Homo sapiens: one gene and its partners. The protein of the gene in region 2 purifies or fractionates together with the protein of the main gene of each other region. This does not show direct contact. Each region holds a gene or a part of one and is shown on either strand. Other genes may lie near its edges. The genes, in order: PACC1, EVA1A and P2RY1.

What was found.
Region 1: the proteins of EVA1A (region 2) and PACC1 purify together in Homo sapiens (co-immunoprecipitation; one large-scale study listed by IntAct). This does not show direct contact.
Region 3: the proteins of EVA1A (region 2) and P2RY1 purify together in Homo sapiens (co-immunoprecipitation; one large-scale study listed by IntAct). This does not show direct contact.

Annotation. Positions count from the first base shown.
Region 1 is NC_000001.11:212,380,354-212,384,082, forward strand, and holds part of PACC1 (proton-activated chloride channel), read right to left. Parts: intron 1-3,729. UniProt on the Homo sapiens protein: Chloride channel gated by pH that facilitates the entry of chloride ions into cells upon exposure to extracellular acidic pH. Involved in acidosis-induced cell death by mediating chloride influx and subsequent cell swelling.
Region 2 is NC_000002.12:75,558,118-75,562,280, reverse strand, and holds the start of EVA1A (protein eva-1 homolog A), read left to right. Parts: upstream 1-1,341; 5' UTR 1,342-1,601; intron 1,602-4,163. UniProt on the Homo sapiens protein: Acts as a regulator of programmed cell death, mediating both autophagy and apoptosis.
Region 3 is NC_000003.12:152,838,905-152,841,939, reverse strand, and holds the end of P2RY1 (P2Y purinoceptor 1), read right to left. Parts: 3' UTR 501-3,035; downstream 1-500. UniProt on the Homo sapiens protein: Receptor for extracellular adenine nucleotides such as ADP. In platelets, binding to ADP leads to mobilization of intracellular calcium ions via activation of phospholipase C, a change in platelet shape, and ultimately platelet aggregation.

The DNA of each region.
Region 1 (3,729 bases), on a different chromosome or scaffold from region 2:
TGTCATTTTTCTTTTAACTTTGTTTCCAATGTCATTTGTCCTATGGAAACTTTAAATTTAACGTAGTAAAACCTTAAATCCTTTTCTTTACGGCTTTGGGTTTTGCTTGCTGAGGAAAGCCAAAATTATATCAATATTCTCCTCTATTTCTTTATAGCACTTTTTAATCTTTTTTACATTTAGATACTTTATATACCTGGCTTTAAGCTCTGTATATAGTGTGAAATAGGGCTCTAACTCCTACTTCCCAAACAATGCATAGAGACAGGTTTTGAAGCCTCTTCCCCTCCCTCCTTTATCCTATACTAAATTCCATGCAGAACCAATATCTATGTCTGCTTCTGGCCCTAGCAGAGCCCACACATTTGTCTGTCTCTGTCCAGTACTGTGCCACTTTGATTCCTGTGGTTTTTCCACTGTTCTGAGATCTGGGAAGGTGCTCTCCCTACTACTCTTCCCCATCCCCAAACTTGTCTTGGTTATTTTTGAACGTGTTCTAAGTATGCTTTAAGACTAGCTTGCTTAGTTCCACAAAAAAATTCACTGGGACTTTTAACTGTGATAGAAACTGAATTTATAGATTAATTTTAGAAAAAAATGTCTTTTACATCAACTTTTATAAATAAATGCTCTACAGAGATTTGAAAAAGAGTGAGTACACTGTCAGTTACAAAGTTTTGTGCCCCCACATGTATACACACACATACATACTCTAAATTTATTAACTGCACTATTCAATTCTTATCCTTTCTAGTTTTTGTCTATTTGATCTGTGAATTTCTGAGAGGGGTGTTTAAATCGTGCTCTAAAGTGATGGTATTTTTTACTTCTAACGGGTTTTGCTTAAAATATATAAATGTCATGCTGTTTTGTACATAAAGTTTTGGAACTGTTCAGTCGTCTTAGTGGAGAGTATGGAGTTGAACCTCTTATCAATATTAAACATCCTTCTTGCAAACTTTTGCACGTGGAATTCCACACTATTAATATTGTCACTTCTGGTTTTCGTTGCATCTTCTCAAGACAGCTTTGTCCATCTATTTATTTTTCAACCTTTCTGTACCATTTTGTTTTAAGTGTGCAACAGAAAGCACTGTCCCTGGTTTCTATTATCCATTTCTTCCTTTAGTACTAGAATGGCTTTCCCAACCCAGATTTCAGCAGAATCCACTCCCCCTGCTGGAGCCTCATCTCTGCCCTCAAATGTAGCCACGTGATAAAGTTCCTAATGTGCGAAAGAAAAGGGGACTCATTCAACTCCACCCCATTTCCTGAAAAGGGAACTGCTTGCCCTCCACCTTCCCAGGCCTGGGCATGTGCACAGACACACACACACACACTGCACACACACACACACACACACACACACACACACAGCCCACATGGACCAGAACAATGCCCAGGGGACAGCACAGTGACACACACACACACACACACACACACTGCCCACATGGACCAGAACAATGCCCAGGGGACAGCACAGTGACAAGACAAAAGTCATGGCTGGACTATCCTATGAGGCAGTACTGCCCACTACGCCACACGGCCTGCATGCCAGGACTGTTCTCAGAGAGAGAAGGAGGCTTCTCCCTCATCTCAGCCATTGTATTTGCAGGTTTTGTTTTTATTTGGTAGCTTAGCCTATACTCTGACTAATACACAATTTGTTAGCTGACACTGGAGTGTTCTTGTTTTTTTTTTTTGAGACGGTGTCTCGCTCTGTTGCCCAAGCTGGAGTGCACTGGCGTGATCTCGGCTCACTGCAAGCTCCGCCTCCCGGGTTCAGGCGATTCTCCTGTCTTGCCCTCCCAAGTAGCTGGGACTACAGGCACGTGCCACTACACACGCCTGATTTTTTTATTTTTATTTTTAGTAGAGACGGGGTTTCACCATGTTAGCCAGGATGGTCTCGATCTCCTGACCTCGTGATCCACCTGCCTCGGCCTCCCAAAGTGCTGGATTACAGGCATGAGCCACCACGCCCGGCTGGAGTGTTTTATGGTTGCAAAAAAAATCAAAATGAGGGAACAGCCAAACATTTGGGCAGTGGGAAAATGGCGGGCAGTAAGGAAATAGATAAGGATCCCGCAGGCTGGAAAGGTGGCAAACCTTATTGTGCCAGAGCAGAGCATTTGGTAAAAAATAACTACCATTAAATTGAGAGCATGAAAGAAAGCACCAGAAAATCAGCAAAATTCCGAAGATTTTACAAATACAACAGGATGAGACCCTCGACTGGGGTCACTTTCACATGAACTTGATTAGATGCGAACAGCCAGAAGCCTACACATTTCTGAAATCTCACTGCAAACATAGGCAGTGGCAGGAGGCAGGTAAGAAGCCGCCCTCCAAGTTTGCAATTGTTTAGCCCTAAAGCTGCTCACACAAGCAGGAAGTGAGTGGCACAAGCTGTGCAGCCACCAGGGAGGGCGTATTTTCTAATGTCCACTTCAGATATGGCCACAGAGCATTACCACCAAGGCAGAAGCTCCCAGGGGACGAGGCCAGAGCACACAGGAGTCTCTTTCTGAGGGCAGCAACAGGTTCAAACCAAGGAGCTTACTTCATGCCAAGAAGGCGTCTCACCGGTCCCACCCTGCAGGGTTCCACCACTGCTGCAGAGCAGAGCTGCGGGCCCTTCCCCTTCTTCCTTTTCCAAATGGGAGCTCTACTGCTCTCATCATATTCTTCCTCCACTGCTATATGCTGGTTTGGGTAGGAAACTTGGTGGATAGGGAGGAGATAACTTCTCTGTTAGTTTATAGCTTGTGGACTTCAAGAAATTGATGGAGGAGATGAACCAACACTCAGACTTGGGGGCAGTAGCTGCATTCAACTTCATTTCCATAAAAACAACTCTCTCTTTGTGCCCTTATTTCAAGGGTTTTTACACTCTTTAGTCGAATTATGTAACTATTGTAACAAGTGCAACTGGCCTACACAGGTTTGGAAATGACCCTCACTGACTCCTCCTAAGCATACACTTCAACTGGGGGAGGAGAGGAGGGCATCCAGAGAATAGGCACCTAGTGGGACGGAAGCAGCCACGAGTTTTCATTAGCGTGTTTTACAGAGAGATGAAGGGAGCTGGGAATCCAGACAAAGAGCTTCTATTATACATATAACTCCACATTGGAATTGTTTAAAAGTTGCTTTCCTTTTTGTTTTAATTAGCTTCTACTTCCCTATTCTAGAGTCCATTCTATTTGTTCATCTTGGTCCTTTTCTGTCATTGGTTTCATGCAAATGTCTGGTGACCATTAATTCTCCATTCTTATTTATGAATGAAGGATTAGGTTGACTAGTATAGGTCTGGGTTTTGGTTTCTTCCAAAGTAGTAAATTTCTGTTTCTCTAATAGGCCTCTCCCTTGCATGGGAAAGCTAAGTATGCTCTGTGGAAGCACACTGAGTTTTCCAGTGTGTTTTACTCTGGGAAGAGTCCTTTCCTTTAGTTCTCTCTCCTTTTCCATTGTAGAAGTCTGCTCTGTTTCCTATGCCTACACAAAGAATCATCTTCCCTTCGCTTCTGTAGAGAATGGTTCCAGGGTCTTTTACCCAGAGGCAACCATCCCCAGCGGCTCTGCATACCTGGGGAGGGTATAGGGTGTGTCTGGCCCAGCCAACAGGCAGTCCAGTAATGACTACCCTGCTCTCTAACGGTGCTGATTCCAAGCTGGGGGTTTGGAAGGAAAGCTTGTACCTCTACAACAGGTCTCTCCTTCATCTGT
Region 2 (4,163 bases):
CTGGGGCCACCTATTGGTTTTTAAAGCTCCCCAGGTGTTTCTAATAGACACCCAGGGCTCCATAGTCTAATATACAATCAGTCCAATATACAGCATAATATACAGTCAGTGGTCTAGCAGCCAGTGCTTCCAAATTCTAATGCACATTTGAATCATCTAGGGATCTTGTTAAGCTGCAGATACTAATCCAGTGGTTCAAGTGCGGCCCGAGGGTTTTCATTTCCATAAAGCTTCCATGTGGTGTTAGTACTGCCAGTCTCTGGACCACACTTGGAGTAGCAGCTCCAGAAGGCACTCTGGGATTCTAGTCATCCACGTGGTCACTGGCTACTCTAGCCAGAGGCCTGGGAGTCACCTCTCTCCTTCATCCTCTCCTCATCTTCTCCCTTTCAAGCCCTTGGTCATCAGATCTTGTCAGTTCCATCACACTGCTTCTAGGAGCTCCTCTCCTTTCCTAACGGACTGGCACAATATTTTCCTCCCTGTTCCCCACCATCACTCACTGCCCTGGCTGTGCTCTTTGCTAGACCGCCTCCTGAAGGCTTTCTTATTCCGTCTTCCCTCTGTCCAAGCTTTTATTTTGATTCTGTAGAAGGCTCTTTCACTCCGTGACCCATCTCTTAAGAGACCACCGCAACCCGGGACCTGTTCTCTCCCTGCACTCTTCCCCTATGACGATTGTATAGGAACAGGGTGTCCCTCTAGTTGTTTCTGCGTTTCCAGCCCCCAGCTGAGCGCCCATCACTCTCAATAAAATACTTGTTGATTTTAACAAACAAAACCCCAACCCTGAAAGAGAAAGGCCAAACAGAGGCCTCAGCTGCATTTCTTCCGATAAAAATGAACATTCCTTCGAGATTATGCATCAGGCTTTAACTTCCCACTCAGAAAAAAAAAAAAAAAAAAGTTGATCAAATTTAACAAAGTAAGTGGTTATTTCCTGTCTGAGTTGAGTAGCTGAATACAGGCTCAAAGCAGGCGACGGGACAGGAATGAGAGGATGGATGCTGGCAGGGGCTTGGAGGTCTGCTTTCAAATCTGGGCTCGTCCCAGCAGGGGGAAAGCCTGGAGGACCGGGATAGGTTGGGGACTGCCGATGGGGAACCTCCCCGGTCCTGCGGACAGTCGGCAGCGCGGGGAGGCAGGCAGGAGTTGGGAGCGTGAACTAACTTGGCGCGGAGGGAGGTGCCGCACGCCGCAGCCGTTCAGGTTTCGCGTCTTGCGGGCGCCCACATGGGCCGCTGGCTTGCAGAAGGGGGCGGGGGAGAGGGAGGGCAGGTCCGGAGCCAAGCGGGTGGAGGAGGGGGGAGATCGAAGGAAATGAGACAACCTTTTCCTCCCACTGACTCGGGCTCCTGCAGCTTCTGCGGGGCTTGGCGCCGCCGTCCGTGAGCACCCAGGCCGGGACCCCACATCCCCAGGCCAGCCCTGACCCCGGCGGCCCCTCCGCCGGGATTCCTTTCCGAGGTACTGGTGCCGGCCCAAGACCCGGGCAGCGCTTTGTCGTGTCCGCCCCTCAGTGATCAGCTCCGGGTCCCCCTGCTCGGCCCCGCGCGCCCCAAGCGCAGTCCCCGGAAGTGCGCGCCGGGGCCCCAGCAAAGGTAAGAGGTGCCCGAGAGCGCTCCCTGAACTCTGGGGGCGCCCGGCATCCCCAGCGGGCTCCGGCTTCTCCGAAGCGCCCTCTTTTCGGAAACACCCAGAGCACTTCTGACCTGAAGCAGCTGCTTTGTTCCCAAGTCCCTGCCCAGGTGTTGTAGGCTGGGTCCCACAGGGAACTCTGCTTCCCAGCGCTTTCTTTTTTGCCTCCTCTTCCTCCCACTTTCCTGTTTCTTCTCTCGCCCCCCCTGCTTCTTTCTGGATAGAACAACTCTCAACTCCCTGCCTCTGCAGCCCAGCTTCGGAAAGCAGGTCGTTCCCAAATCTAGCGCTTCTCTCCTGTGCCTCTGGGAGCTGGGCTGAGCCTGACTGGCTTCTATCCCAAGCCTGCGCGGGGCGGACCTGCCAGAAATGTACGTGCTGCACCGTGGACTATTTACCTGGTTTGTTTCGGAGGCAGCCAACTCGCCGCGCGCATTTGGCGACCCCCAGGACCCCGAAAGCCGAGTGCATCAGGGAGTGAAAGGCTGTTGGCGCCCCCTAAAGTCCCAGTGGGACGCTTTGCTTTTGGAGAGGGGCGCGCAGACAGTCCACGCTGCTCTATCTGGGAGGTCTGCGTGGGGGTCCCCACCCCTACTATTGAGGGGTAAGGGGAGGTGTTGGCACGCAGTACGGAGCGCGTTGGGACATGGAGGAAATGAGGATGTCCTGGAAGGAGAGGAGTGCCAACCACATCGTGCTGGCTTGCCATGTTGTTCTTATTAACTGCCTGAGTTCTCATAACAAGCCTGTGTGTAGGGACTCTTACCCCTATTTTACAAACGGGCAAAATGAGATGGGGCCACACAGCTAGCTAGGAAAGGGCCCAGCCAGGATTTGGGTCCTAGCTGGTCTATACCACACATACACTTCAAGTCCAGCCCTACAGAAGATTCTTCTTTTTAGTCTGAGCAAGAACCGTCCCCCCAACTCCCCCGCCCCCCCCCCACCTCCTTTCTCATAGTACAAGGGACCAGGCTTTTTCCGTTTTGACCTAATATACCTTGATTATATTCAAACCCAAACTACTTATTATCTACTGTCCTCTGAGTTCAGCGGCAAGCACTGAGGTTTCACCTTTGAATCTTATTAATTCATCCCCTTCTTGTCATCCAGTCTGTCACGAAATGTGTAATACTGTTCAGAAGGCTGGCTTGAATCTCCTTTCCATAAAGGCAGTCAAGCGCAGTGGCTAAGAGCCCGGGCCCTGGAGTGAGACCACCAGCTTGAATCCTGGCTGGGGCCTTCCTGTACCTTTCTGTAGCTGGATTTCCTCATCTGTAAAGCAGGGATGCTAGGGCTTAAAGTAATGGTTTTCAACGGAATTTTGATTTTACTTCCCAAGTGACATCCAGCAATGTCTGGAGACATATTTGGCTGTCATCATGTAAGTAGAAGAGGATCTTATTCATCTGGTGGGTAGAGGCCAGGGATGCTGCCACATCCTGTATTGCACAAGACATCTCCCCCCTCCCCCACTCCGCTTCCAAGATTTAAGAATTATCTAGCCTAAAATGTTAATAGTGCTGAGGTTGAGAAGCCCAGGTTTAATGTTTCACTTCATGAAGAGTGCCATTATTTCCAGCTCTCATCCTTTTATCTGCTCTAGTTTGGCTGATTATACCAGTCTCTGTCCCAGTCTTTCCCTCCATTCCAGTGCCAGAATTCTGTTGCCAAATCCACAGCAGGTCATGCGGCTATATTGCCTTAGCACCCTTGTTGGTCCCCTATTGCTAGCAGAAGGGATGGGAATTGGGAATCTGCAGGTGTTTTACAAGCACTGAAGGTAATTCCTCTGCATGTTAAAGTTTGAAAATCACTGTCTTTACAGAATAAAATGTAACCCCCGACCTTGTACACATGGCTCTTCACAACTGGCCTCACCTTATGCCACTTCGTCAATGTTCCTGACATTCCCCCAACCCACTATTCTTTTGGTATTCTAGGTCCTGACTTTTTGGAATGCCCTTCTTCCTCCTTGGCTGGCAATCAATCTTTGAGACTAGAAGTTAAGTCTCCTTTTGGGTGAAGCATCATTCTTCAGTTCCTACAGACCATTTTGTTGCTCCCTGCCCTGCCCCAGGTTGGGGGAAAGCCTCAGCCTCAGCCTCAGCCTCCCCTCTCCCCTCCTTTTTTTTAAAAAATAAATATGTATCTCTTGCAGTATTTTGTTTATCTCTCCCCTGGTCTTACATACTTAGAATCTAGCTTAGTGCCGTCGATGCTCACAGTGATGGTTTCAGGCTTTGGCGTCAGGCTTCTTGCGTTCAAATCTCAGTTCTGCCGCTTATTAACTCTGTTAAAAGTTAATTACTTGACCTTGGTCAAGTTGAATCAGTCTCTCAAAGTCTTCTTGGTAAGAAGAAATAGCGTACCTTCTCTGCAGACTAGTATGACTAACTAATGGAATAATAATCATTCATCTTAATACTGAGTGCCTACCTAATTCCAGGACATGGTTCAAGTTTAGCATTTTATACATTTTTACTCATTTAAAACCTATAATGTCCTTTACAGTTACTACTGGT
Region 3 (3,035 bases), on a different chromosome or scaffold from region 2:
ACTTACCTTCTCAACTGAGGTAAAAAAAAAGGTAATGCTTTAAGCATGCTCCCATTTCATTGTACACCATTTTCACTGTGGCACAATACATTTTTTAACAAACCTGGAAAAAGCAGGTGATGTATGCTAATAAATAGAATCCACAAAGAATTATTAGCGTGGTTACCCTGATTAAAAATTAGATGAGAAAAAATTACAGCCAACATTTTAAACACAGAACACCAGTATGAGAAGCACACATTAAGGTAGCATGAAGTATTTTACAATAAAAAATTAGCTCACATTCCTATTGGCAATTGAATATCAAATATTGATAATTTTACCTATCTTGCACCAGGATTCTACCTTTAACACCGTAGTTTTTAGAGCCCAGTCTTCACCTTAAAAAACAACTGAATTAGTTCAATGTGTTTTACAGTACTTCTCAGTCTGTACATTATTTGTTAAAGTTTGGCAAAACTTGTGAGTATTAACACTGTAATAACATAGAAGCCATCAAACCATGTTTCATAGTTTTATTGAGTCTTTTTCAGTTTTAACTGTCCATGGTAAGTACAGTTCTAGTGACCACAATTATGAAGCTCTGCTCGTACTAAAAATAGCAGATACAAAGTTGGCTGCCATGCCTTACACACACTAAGACACACACACACACACACACACACACACACACACAAGGTTTTGCATACTCTTACATGCAAACAGTACTATGCTATTATAGGAAATGTACTTTCCTTTTATTAAAAATACAATTACACACAATTAGTCTGGGTTTTGTTAAGCTACCACTGATTTAGATAAACCTGAGAAAGCTCAAAATATCAAGTAACACTGTTTCCATACTGCTCATTCAATGGCACTATCACTCAAAAAGAAATCTAGTTCAATCATCTATATTAAAATCACAGATAATATAAAAATAAACATTTTTTGCAATAGCACTAAAACATACTATAATTCAAATTCACAAATTTTGATATGTAACATATATTCACCTTCATATTAATTTGTGATTATGTGTATAATACAATGTACAACAGAATAAAAAACTCTAACAGAATTCAGCAGCCAAATAATATACAATTATCACTATGAAACTTGGAATTTAAGTTATCAACTAAACAAAAAAAAACAGATTAAAATCAATAGCAGTGTTGAACTCGCTGGTAGTGTGTTACTTTAAAATTCCATCTCAAAACAGTTAAGATTATGCTATCTCACCTTAAGAAGAAGCAACACAAAAAATTAAGTAGAACTAAGCAGCAGTAACCGATTATACCAGCTGCCTTTTTCTCTCCCCATCTCCTTAAAGATTTTCCTTACATTGTAACGTTGTTTATATAATGCCCATCCCACTTGACTGCTAAAACATGACAGATCAACTTTAAATGTAGGACAAGACTTTTGCATTTGGAAAGGGAAGCTTTGATCATATTTAGTGACAATACTCTAAACCTCCTGAAAAGACAACAAAAACTTTTATTTAATATATAAAATGTAGACAATACAGACCCCATTTGGCTAAGATATTTTATATTCACTATCGATCTTATGATAGTCTGACACCAAATTGTGTCTATATAGAAAAAAACTTAAATAAAAAGGCAAACATGCAAAAGCACTACTAGGGAAAATTAATCACTTGTATCATGAAACATTTTCATATTTTAGACCAAAAAATGTGAAGACTTAAATATTCCAAGACACTGATATTTGAAAAGCACTGTAATATACAACTCTTATTTATGTATGCATTATATATTTTGTAAAATACACCAGTTTGACACATTAATATCATACATTGTAATAAATATAATTTACATTAGTATGTTGGATCTTTCATGAAAGTTTTTCAGTCTGTACAACTGAAGGACTGTGAGCTTCTTCAATAAATACTTTTACAATAGCTACAACCTGACCAGCAAAGTTTAAGCTTCAATAGATACTAACTAGTATTACATCTTTAAACATTGTCACTAGCCAAATTCCAGCTGCTATAAGCACTGACATCTATAGTATCCAAAGACAGTTTAGTGTCTTGTCTGAGTAGATTGAGACAATTTACAGGTGACAGGTCCACATCATAATCTGTGAAACTTCCAAGATTTTTTTAGCCAAGGAGTGGAATGAAGTCCTGGAAAATACAGTAGCAGATTTCACAGGCTCCTGGCTGTTTAGTTTTCATGCTTTACCATATCCCCCAAGGCCCCAACAATGGATGTCATCCAACTTTTAAATCCATGTGTGTTCTTGAAAGGGTCAACAGTCACATAGCTGGCTGAGCGGCAACATCATGGTTTTAACTCTGAATTCCAACTTGCATGCTGTATTTCTTCTTAGTTTGTCTTTTTGTCATTTCAATGTAAACACAAATTGATGTTCAAAGAGTCAAAGATGCTGATTTGTAAGCAATAAAACACCTTGAATTTGCCATTAAAATATTTTTTGTGGTGTGAAATTTTGTTAGGTAATAAGTTCTATAATGTTAGCAGTTTTTTATCCAAATGCCAACACATTTCTGCCCTTACAATAAACATACTTCAATCATCATATGACCTGATCAGTTTTTCAGCCAATAGAGATCACTGCTTCACCCTGACCCTCTGTACGTTTTCACCATTGGCACACCTTCCCAGAGGCTTCTTTTGGCTTGGAAGGAGTTGGCAAGATCATTCTTGTTACTATGTGGCATGCATTCACATGTCATCAGTGTCCATATGTGATGTATGAAGCTAAAGAAGAAACACTTTGGAAAAAACATGCCAAGTAGTAAACAAGCATTTCTAGTTACTGTTCACCTCCTCACTGGATCCACACTCACAAAATTCTCTGGACGCTGAAACAATGTACTTAACACATACTCTAAATTAAGCTGAGCATCCTGAGACCTAAAAGAAAGAAAACTAAATGGTGAAGAAATATTGTAAAAATGTGTATCATTAGGCTACAAGTTCAAGTCTGGTACAAGTCCTGTAATTTCCATCTTGGTCAGTTTAATGATATTGATCTTGTTTAACAAGGTCAATAAAGTAATG